Linked DNA regions of Homo sapiens: region 1 is linked to region 2. Evidence: fine-mapped QTL for protein levels in blood plasma. Region 2 holds a variant in brackets. A gene starts in the other region. All regions are shown on their reverse strands. Region 1 holds the start of ADGRF5 (adhesion G protein-coupled receptor F5). Region 2 overlaps NID1 (nidogen 1).

What was found. PIP is the chance, under the fine-mapping model, that this variant and not a neighbour inherited with it causes the effect. The UK Biobank Pharma Proteomics Project read protein levels with antibody pairs (Olink). The fine-mapping took linkage between variants from a reference panel, not from the people measured, so its PIPs are less certain.
Region 1: it holds the start of ADGRF5, and the variant in region 2 is fine-mapped to the plasma level of the ADGRF5 protein (UK Biobank, PIP 0.99).

What each region holds. Positions count from the first base shown.
Region 1 is chr6:46,919,932-46,924,324 of GRCh38, reverse strand. ADGRF5 (adhesion G protein-coupled receptor F5) reads left to right here and starts at 2,387. Exons shown (of 21, transcript NM_001098518.2): 1 at 2,387-2,612. It overlaps LOC105375080 (a long non-coding RNA gene), which reads right to left and starts at 2,246. Exons shown (of 3, transcript XR_001744147.2): 1 at 1,890-2,246.
Region 2 is chr1:236,041,528-236,045,920 of GRCh38, reverse strand. NID1 (nidogen 1) reads left to right here. Exons shown (of 20, transcript NM_002508.3): 3 at 238-464; 4 at 3,629-4,011. Among named protein-coding and RNA genes, the nearest start is that of NID1, 21 kb to the left of the region's middle. The variant G/T (reference allele first, on the strand shown) is at 2,476.

The DNA of each region.
Region 1 (4,393 bases), not on the chromosome of region 2:
GCATTAGATGGATTGTTTGAATGCAGTGTGGTAACTTCAAAAAGACATGCATCTGGCAGTGTGGGATCAGGGAGAAGAAATACTTGGCTCAGGCTGGGAGAAATAGGAGGGTCCTTGGAAGAAATAACACCTGGAACTTAAAAAGAGACTAAACGTTACCTGTGTGAAGAAAGGAGAAGGGCAGAGTGAAAGAAGGGCAGAAGTGAAACAGCTGGGAACATGCTGGAAAATATGTATTTATTTGGTGCTGAAATTTCTTCCTGAGAAAGTAGGAGCTTTGTCTCTAATGAGACTGTACCTTACAGCCATGAGAGACATTTCATATTAACAAAGTGATAACATGACTGGTAAATTATTCTCTCTACGTTTGCAGTTGGGTTCAAGAAATTTGGGTTCAGCCACCAACACCAACGTTTTAGAATTCAAGAAAACGGCTGCTGTGACAGTCAATTCCAGCCGTAGCTACGACAGGGCAGGGTCTCTCCATCCACAGTTCATTCTGGGTTGCCGCTGAGGCCATATGGTGGTTGCATTTTTTATTTGCTTTTGTTTTCATTGTAATGTGTGTGCAGCAAGCACATAGTGTTCCTAACAACAAGCAGGGAACTGTGGGCGAGAAGAATTGCTCCTCAGGGAAGGAAAGGGACAGCCACTTTGACAACGCCCATTCCATGTTAGACAGCCTGCTGCACCCAACAACCAAAATACGAGCAGGAAAAAAGGCAGCATTTGCCCAGGAACTGCATCCCTCAGCAGGCTCTTTTTAAGTTAGGGTGTATCCAATCTAACGTGTAGACTACAGTTGAGAATCATTATCTAGAAGTGGAATAATAACATTTTGGAGTTCATCCTCTTCTTGCCCAAATACTCTGGTCTCAAGCCTAAGTCCTGCTGGTGGTTGCTGACTTGCTACAGGCTGATAGCATGACAAGAAGGGAAGGCAGCTGGAGGGGAGAGAGGATGAACTTGGAGGCATTGGAGCCCAGGGCTCCAGAGAACAACAAACAGTTACTAAACTCTTCCTCTTCAGTTTCAGCAGAGTCTATAAACTCAGTACTATTATTATCCCACTTTCACACACAATAAAACTGAATCTCAGGGCCAGGAGCAGTGGCTCACGCCTGTAATCCCAGCACTTTGGGAGGCCGAGGCTGGGGATTACCTGAGGTCAGGAGTTTGAGACCAGCCTGGCCAACATGGAGAGACCCTGTCTCTATTAAAAATACAAAAATTAGCCAGATGTGCTGGTAGGCACCTACAGTCCCAGCTACTGGGAAAGCTGAGGCAGGAGAATCGCTTGAACCCAGGAGGCAGAGGTTGCAGTGAGCCAAGATCGCGCCACTGGACTCTAGCCTGGGAGACAGAGCGAGACTCCGTCTAAAAACAAAACAACACTGAATCTCAATAGGGTCAAGTAATGTGTACCCGGCCACATATAATTGGTGGGACTAAAGCATCAGTTCCTACAGTCTGACTCCAGAGTCCTTTCTTTGACACTATGAGGAATTCCCTGAAGATACTCTTGGGACTACCTGCATGGGACTCACCCGAAGCACTTATTTCCAATGCCGATTCCAAGCCAGGCCTCATTCATCAAACTTTCTGTGGGCAGAGCTCCAGAGTAGAGAGTCAAACAGCATTCCCCATCCGTGTTCTGACCTTGGGAAGGGTTCTCCTTGGGCCTCAGTTTCCTCTTTTGTAAAATGAGGATCAGTGAGGTCACTTCCAGTTCAAAAATGAGCTGACTATAATTCATCTTTAAACCCAGCAACCTGGATGCAGCCTGCCAACCAGGCCTTTACCATATATCTCCTTATCTTTAAATATCCATGCTATTGAGCGGTATTTTAAGTACCACTAAATTTATAGTTTGATACACAAATACTCACAGAGTTTCCCTGGAAACCTAGGAGAACTGGACGTCCCTCCAATATGGCATTTTTGAGGTACAGCCCTCCCGCGGGGGAGGACTAAGCAACTTCTCTAGGTCTCTTCTCTTCTGCGGATTCTTTTTTTCTCTGCTTTCTTGGCACTGCTAAAGACAAAGAATTCATCGATAGTCTTAATTTTCCTTCCTCTCTGAAGTTACAATCTAATTTAGTGGTCATCTTTTAAAAGTTGAAACCAGACATCCTGTACTTCTCATTAGCTCTAACCTATGTTTGGTTTGCTCTGGTTTTGCTTTTCTGATTTTTTTCTTTGGAGAAAGAAAAGTGAGAACTAGGGGCATTGGCCAAACAAGTCTGTCCACTTGGTGGAGAGGTTTCCAGATAAGAAGGATCTGAAGGACTTCCCATGGGCGTGAGGGAAATCGCACACGCCATCCGGGGAAGAGGACCAGGAAATCACTTTTTGTTTTTAAAACAGCAGCGCGGCTCTCAGGGATGACTCTGTGAGACTGGGAGGATCATAGCTGGGGGAGGCTGAGCGTGGGAGCGGTGCTGCCAGTCCTGCCTGAAAACGCGAAATGAGTCTTGCTTGGTTCTCCCTCCACTGGGCGTGAGAGCCCCTGCCCAGGAGGCCCAGGACAAATGGCCCCATAGTGGAAACTGGGAAGCTTTTAGGCATCTGATCAGAGCGGGAGCCAGCCGGGGGACCACAGTGCTGGACAGGTAACAGACATTTCTCCTACTGCGGTCTGTCATTCTGTCTCCCTTTGTAGCAAGACCTCAGGGGCTCCTAAGTCACTTCTCTTAAGACATCTTCCACTTACGATCCTCTTTGCCTGCTTTTCTTTTGCGTAGGTGTGATATGTATGTTGGGAAAGTTAAGTATGTCCAGTCAAGAGCATTGTGCATACTGTTGGTCCAGTTAATGAGACTATATTAAAGGAGATGGCGTATCAAGCAACTAGCTGGGATCCTTTAGGATTTTCTTAATAACAGACTTTTTTTTTTTCAAACAAGTTCTCTCGTCCTTAAACCAGAAAATACTATAAAAACCAGTGCATTCATGAGCTACTGAGCTGCTGCTCTTGCCAAGAGCATTTCAGGGCCAGTCGGCCATTGCTGTGGTCAGGCTGAGGAAGGAAGAGGCTGCATCCCAGTAGCAGGAGGAGGGAGCCCTGGCTATTCGCTCAGCTTCGGGAGAGTCCTTCCAAAGGACAAGGGATGACCTTAGAAATGTAAAATGTAGGCTGCAGCCTCCCACACAGGACTGAGGGGAAAGGAGTTTGTAGTCAGCATTAGGAAGGAGGTCAGTAAAAGTGCTGGGGCTTCAGGGCCAGGCCGACTTGTTTTGAAAGGAGCAACTCTATGATGTGCGGTTTGCTTAAACCATGTTTTCTCATATTTCAGAAAGCCAGGTCATGCCACTTCACTACAGCATTTTTTCTTTCATAAAGGGCTAACGTAGTTGGTTTTTCAATGTAGGTTATTTTTGAATTACACAGATAATACTTGACTATATTCTTATCGTAAAAGAATATCTCTAAATAGATTTTATTTTTATTTTTATTTTTTTGAGATGGAGTCTTGCTCTGTCGCCCAGGTTGGAGTGCAGTGGCACGATCTTGGTTCACTACAACCTCTGCCTCCCGGGTTCAAACGATCCTCCTGCCTCAACCTCCCAAGCAGCTGGGATTACAGGCACCCGCCACCACACCCTGCTAATTTTTGTATTTTTAGTAGAGATGGGGTTTCACCATGTTAGCCAGGTTGGTCTCGAACTCCTGACCTCAGGTGATCCACCTGCCTCGGCCTCCCAAAATGCTGGAATTACGGGTGTCAGCCATCGCAGCCAGCTTTCTGTTAACAGTTTTCAATTGCACCCCCAATATACACTCTCTTCCCCCCCCCCAAATATTATTCTATCAATTGTTTTCTGTGTTACCAGTTAAAGGCTTTATTTTCTGTTCTTCTGAGCTCTATAGGACAAGCCGGGGCACAGGAGTACAATAAATTCTCATTGTCAAGTTCTTGTGATTTATCCTAAACTCCTTCCTCTCAGTGAAAGATAAAATGATACATGGGAAACATGAATAGCTCTTTTAACTCTTAGAAAAGTATAAAGAGTTTTACTCATTTTTACCATTACTATTTTGTGTTGGTTTTGGCTTTGACAATTAATAATATTAGTAACAACCTCCTAAGGATTAAATTCTAGATTTGCCAATTAGTGGTTTGGGCTTTTCCCTTGAAGGGCATCAGAAGTTTCTTATTCTAGAAATGAAAGGGGAGAAGATAAAATAACAGGAAATTAACTAGATAGATAATAGCTAGATTGATAGATAAAGTGGCCCAGAGAACGTAGAGTGAAGACAGGAGAGATTGCCCTTTTATTCAGTGGATAATAAATGCATTTAACAGATCGGTTCATTTTCCATCTCTTTTAGTCTTCTGTAAAAAGGTGGCCTTCCCCTCCCCACCAACAATGTTAAGAGACAAGCAAATAA
Region 2 (4,393 bases):
GCAGAAGATATTTATGAATTAATCAGAAAATGTCATGTTGACATAGCCTTAGGGATATTTCAGTGGAACTATCCCAGAATCCTAGGTTCTTGCTACAAAAGTCCTTCTTTTAGAATAAGGTGAGAATATTGCCATCGCTCTATAGCACTGTACGCTTTATAGATAGTCTGGCGAATAACACATTTTAAAATCTATCGATATTTTTCCGAGTAACTGAATTTTAACTCATCTTCACAGAGAAACACGTTCCAGGCTGTTCTAGCCTCCTCTGATTCCAGCTCCTATGCCATTTTCCTTTATCCTGAGGATGGTCTGCAGTTCCATACGACATTCTCAAAGAAGGAAAACAACCAAGTTCCTGCCGTGGTTGCATTCAGTCAAGGTTCAGTGGGATTCTTATGGAAGAGCAACGGAGCTTATAACATATTTGCTAATGACAGGGAATCAGTTGAAAATTTGGCCAAGTATGCTTTCTTTGTTCTTCAGTAGATTCTCCTCTTAATATTTTTTAATGTGGATAATGTAATGTGTATTATAGATCATTACCTAAAAATGTTCCTATGGATTTAAGTTTTGCATATAGTTTTTATATTATGAGATACTCTTTTTCTGATGAACTTAAGGAAATGTATTTTTAGAATGAACAGATATCCTATTTTTTAGATATCATCCTCATTTAAAATAGTTCTTTTTTTTTTTTTTTTTTTTTTTTTTGAGACAGAGCCTTACTCTGTTGCCCAAGCTGGAAGGCTGGAGTGCAATGGCACAATCTCGACTCACTGCAACCTCTGCCTCCCAGGTTCAAGTGATTCTCTCGCCTCAGCTTCCCAAGTAGCTGGGATTACAGGTGTGTGCCACCATGCCCAGCTAATTCTTGTATTTTTAGTAGAGACGGGGTTTCACCATGTTGGCCAGGCTGGTCTTGAACTCCTGCCCTCGGGTGATCTGCCCACCTCAGCCTCCCAAAGTGCTGGGATTACAGGCATGAAGTGCCGCGCCCGGCCTTAAGACAGTTTTTACCATTTTGTCTATAAACACTGTTAGAAATAAGGGTTATTCAAACCTATCTCCTTTGATCTCAAGGCTGAGAAAACCTTTTCCTTCACATTGACTAGGGGGAATATTCTTACAACAGAAATGGTGCTCTCAGGTTATGTTGTAGAATTTGACAAAAGAGGGAAAAGCCCAAATTGGATTTTGAAGATTAAAACCTTTCCTCTCCCATTATTCTTTAAAAACCAAGAGTGAATCCCCTAAAACCACCTTTTAATTTTATATCTTCAAATCTAGCTTGAATTCCTCTGCCCTTCACTTAGTGATGTGCTGGTAAATGCTTAACAACTGGTTTTATGAGGGCAGAGGAACCTGATTTATAGCGTTTGCCTGTTTCTGTGATGTAAATACTCCTACGATGGCCAAGTTCAAGTTATTAACGTCATGTCACTCATTGAAGAGTTCAGAAAACATGCACCATTATATATATTCTCACCATAAAGATAAAATAGGTTTAATATATATAATTTCAAGAGCATGGACAGTAGCAAAAGGATTAGAATATGATGAGTTTTGAATATTTTTTCCTTTTAAAAAATATAACTTGTTTAATTGGAAGTTCATGTAATTTAATTGTTTAGAATGGCTGTGTTTAATAACTGGCTTGCAAAATTCCTAAAACTTTAACAGCCAGCTCTCACAAGCTAGTCCATATAAGCTCCCACACACCACTGTCTTTACTTGAATCCCAGGCAGACAAATTGATTAGACATCCTATTTATGCAGGACTTTTGTGATTTATCATCCCCACCCCACCCCATTGTTTTGCTCAGTATTTTCCACTGAGTAATGTATGTCCCCTCTGTCCACCGTATAATATAATTATTTCATGTAATTTCTGATAGGAGCACTTCCAATCACAGACACAGAAGAATGGTAAAAATGGTGGAGGAAGAAGTAGAGATTAGGGATATTCTACTATATTTTATAGTTATAAAATGCTTTTGGATTTTGTATCTCATTTGCTTTTCACCATATCCTTTAAGCACCAAAGGTAAACTGAGACTAGTCCAAGATCTCACAGCCAATGGAGTTGGGATTTCTTTTTTTGTTGTTTTTGTTGTTGTTTTGAGATGGAGTCTTGCTCTGTCGCCCAGGCTGGAGTGCAGTGGCACGATCTTGGCTCACTGCAAGCTCTGCCTCCCGGGTTCACGCCATTCTCCTGCTTCAGCGTCCCGAGCAGCTGGGACTACAGGCGCCCACCACCACGCCCAGCTAATTTTTTGTATTTTTAGTAGAGACGGGGTTTCACCATGTTAGCCAGGATGGTCTCGATCTCCTGACCTCATGATCTGCCCTCCTCAGCCCCCCAAAGTGCTGGGATTACAGGTGTGAGCCACCGCGCCCGGCCCTGGAGTTGGGATTTCTAAAAAACCACGTCTGCAATGTTTTCACTCACACTTCTGACACCAAATGGGTGGG[G/T]TTTTTTTTCCCACACCAACCAATTCTCTGCACACCAGCCGGGTGTCCTACACTTCAGTTCAATTCTAGCACTGGCGTTACTGCAGACCCCACAGGTTAAGGGCTCAGTCCCACAGGACTGCCCCCACTTCAGATGCCAGTCCCAAGTCCTGTGTTTCCACCTGTACTTCTGACCAACCAGCTATAAATGGAGGGTTTCCATGGCATGCTCCTCAGATTTGATAATTTGCTAGAATGGCTCACATAACACAGAAAAATGCTTCACTATTACCAGTTCATTCTAAAGGATACAACTCTGGAACAACCAAATGGAAGAGAGGCATAGGACAAGGTATGGGTAAGGGGGCAGGGTTTCTATGCCGTCTCTGAGTACACCAGCCTTCCCGCACCTTGATGTGTTCAACCCAGAAGCTCTCTGAACCCCATCATTTTAGGGTTTTTATGGTGGTGTTATTTCATAGGCACAGTTGATTAAATCACTGATCCTTGGTGATTGACTCAATCTCCAGCCCATCTCCCCTCCCTGGAGGCAGTGGGGAAAGCTGGACATTCCAACCTTCTAATCATGCCTTGGTCTTTCTGGCCACCAGCCCCCATCCTGAAACTGTCTAGGAGCTCCCAGCCATCAGTCAACTCATTAGCCTACAAAAGACACTCTTATCACTTCAGAAATTCCAAAGGCTGTAGGAGCTCTTGTTTCAGAATGTGAGGACAGAGACCAAACATGTATTTTCAATTGTATCATACCATGTCATGGAAAGAGATAGTGGAGAGCATGAATGACTTCAGTCCTAAAGCCACTGTCAGTCCTATGAGCCACCTTAGCTCATAAGGTAGAGCATGTAACCAGCAATTAGGATGAGCAAGTTGAATTTTAAGTCCTGATAGTGTCCCTGGAGCACACTTCTGGAATGGCTGGGACTGAGCTTGTGCTAGTATTGTGCCCATTTGGACACAGTCTCACCAGACAGCCCTAGACTGCCTCAGCCACATGACGCCCAGACATGACGGCCAGTGCCCTTCCACTCTCCAGTCCTAGCTGCAGGTGATGGCTTGCAGACCAACACAGATCCTCAGGGCTCCCTCTGCTTGGGTAGTGGTGGCTGTTGGTGGGTTGCTGGCCTGTTTCTAAGAAGCCTGTCCTTCCTCCTAGGAGTAGTAACTCTGGGCAGCAGGGTGTCTGGGTGTTTGAGATTGGGAGTCCAGCCACCACCAATGGCGTGGTGCCTGCAGACGTGATCCTCGGAACTGAAGATGGGGCAGAGTATGATGATGAGGATGAAGATTATGACCTGGCGACCACTCGTCTGGGCCTGGAGGATGTGGGCACCACGCCCTTCTCCTACAAGGCTCTGAGAAGGGGAGGTGCTGACACATACAGTGTGCCCAGCGTCCTCTCCCCGCGCCGGGCAGCTACCGAAAGGCCCCTTGGACCTCCCACAGAGAGAACCAGGTCTTTCCAGTTGGCAGTGGAGACTTTTCACCAGCAGCACCCTCAGGTCATAGATGTGGATGAAGTTGAGGAAACAGGAGTTGGTAAGACCATTTAAGTTGCAGTTGGTAACGATCTTGGATGTGTGGGCTTCCAGACAGGCGTACTGCTGGGGAGATGTCAGTTGTGAGCATTACATGGTGGTTTGTAAAGATAAGAGCTTGGGAAAGTAGAGGCTGAACTCTCACAGCCGTGGAGCCTTGGTGTTATATGCCCAGTGGCTTCAGAGATGCTCAGTGATCTTTTGGGATTAGGACCATGGTTTTGGAGACTGTTGAGTGTGTCTTCTTTCAAGTTTCCTAGTATTCCGTTCTGTCTGTTTTAAAGAGAAAACGTCCGTTAGAATTGTTTTGAAAGTCAGATTTTCTTGTGATTTCTCAGATCAGAAATGTATTCATCCACCTGAAAAAACATTTTAGAAGTTCT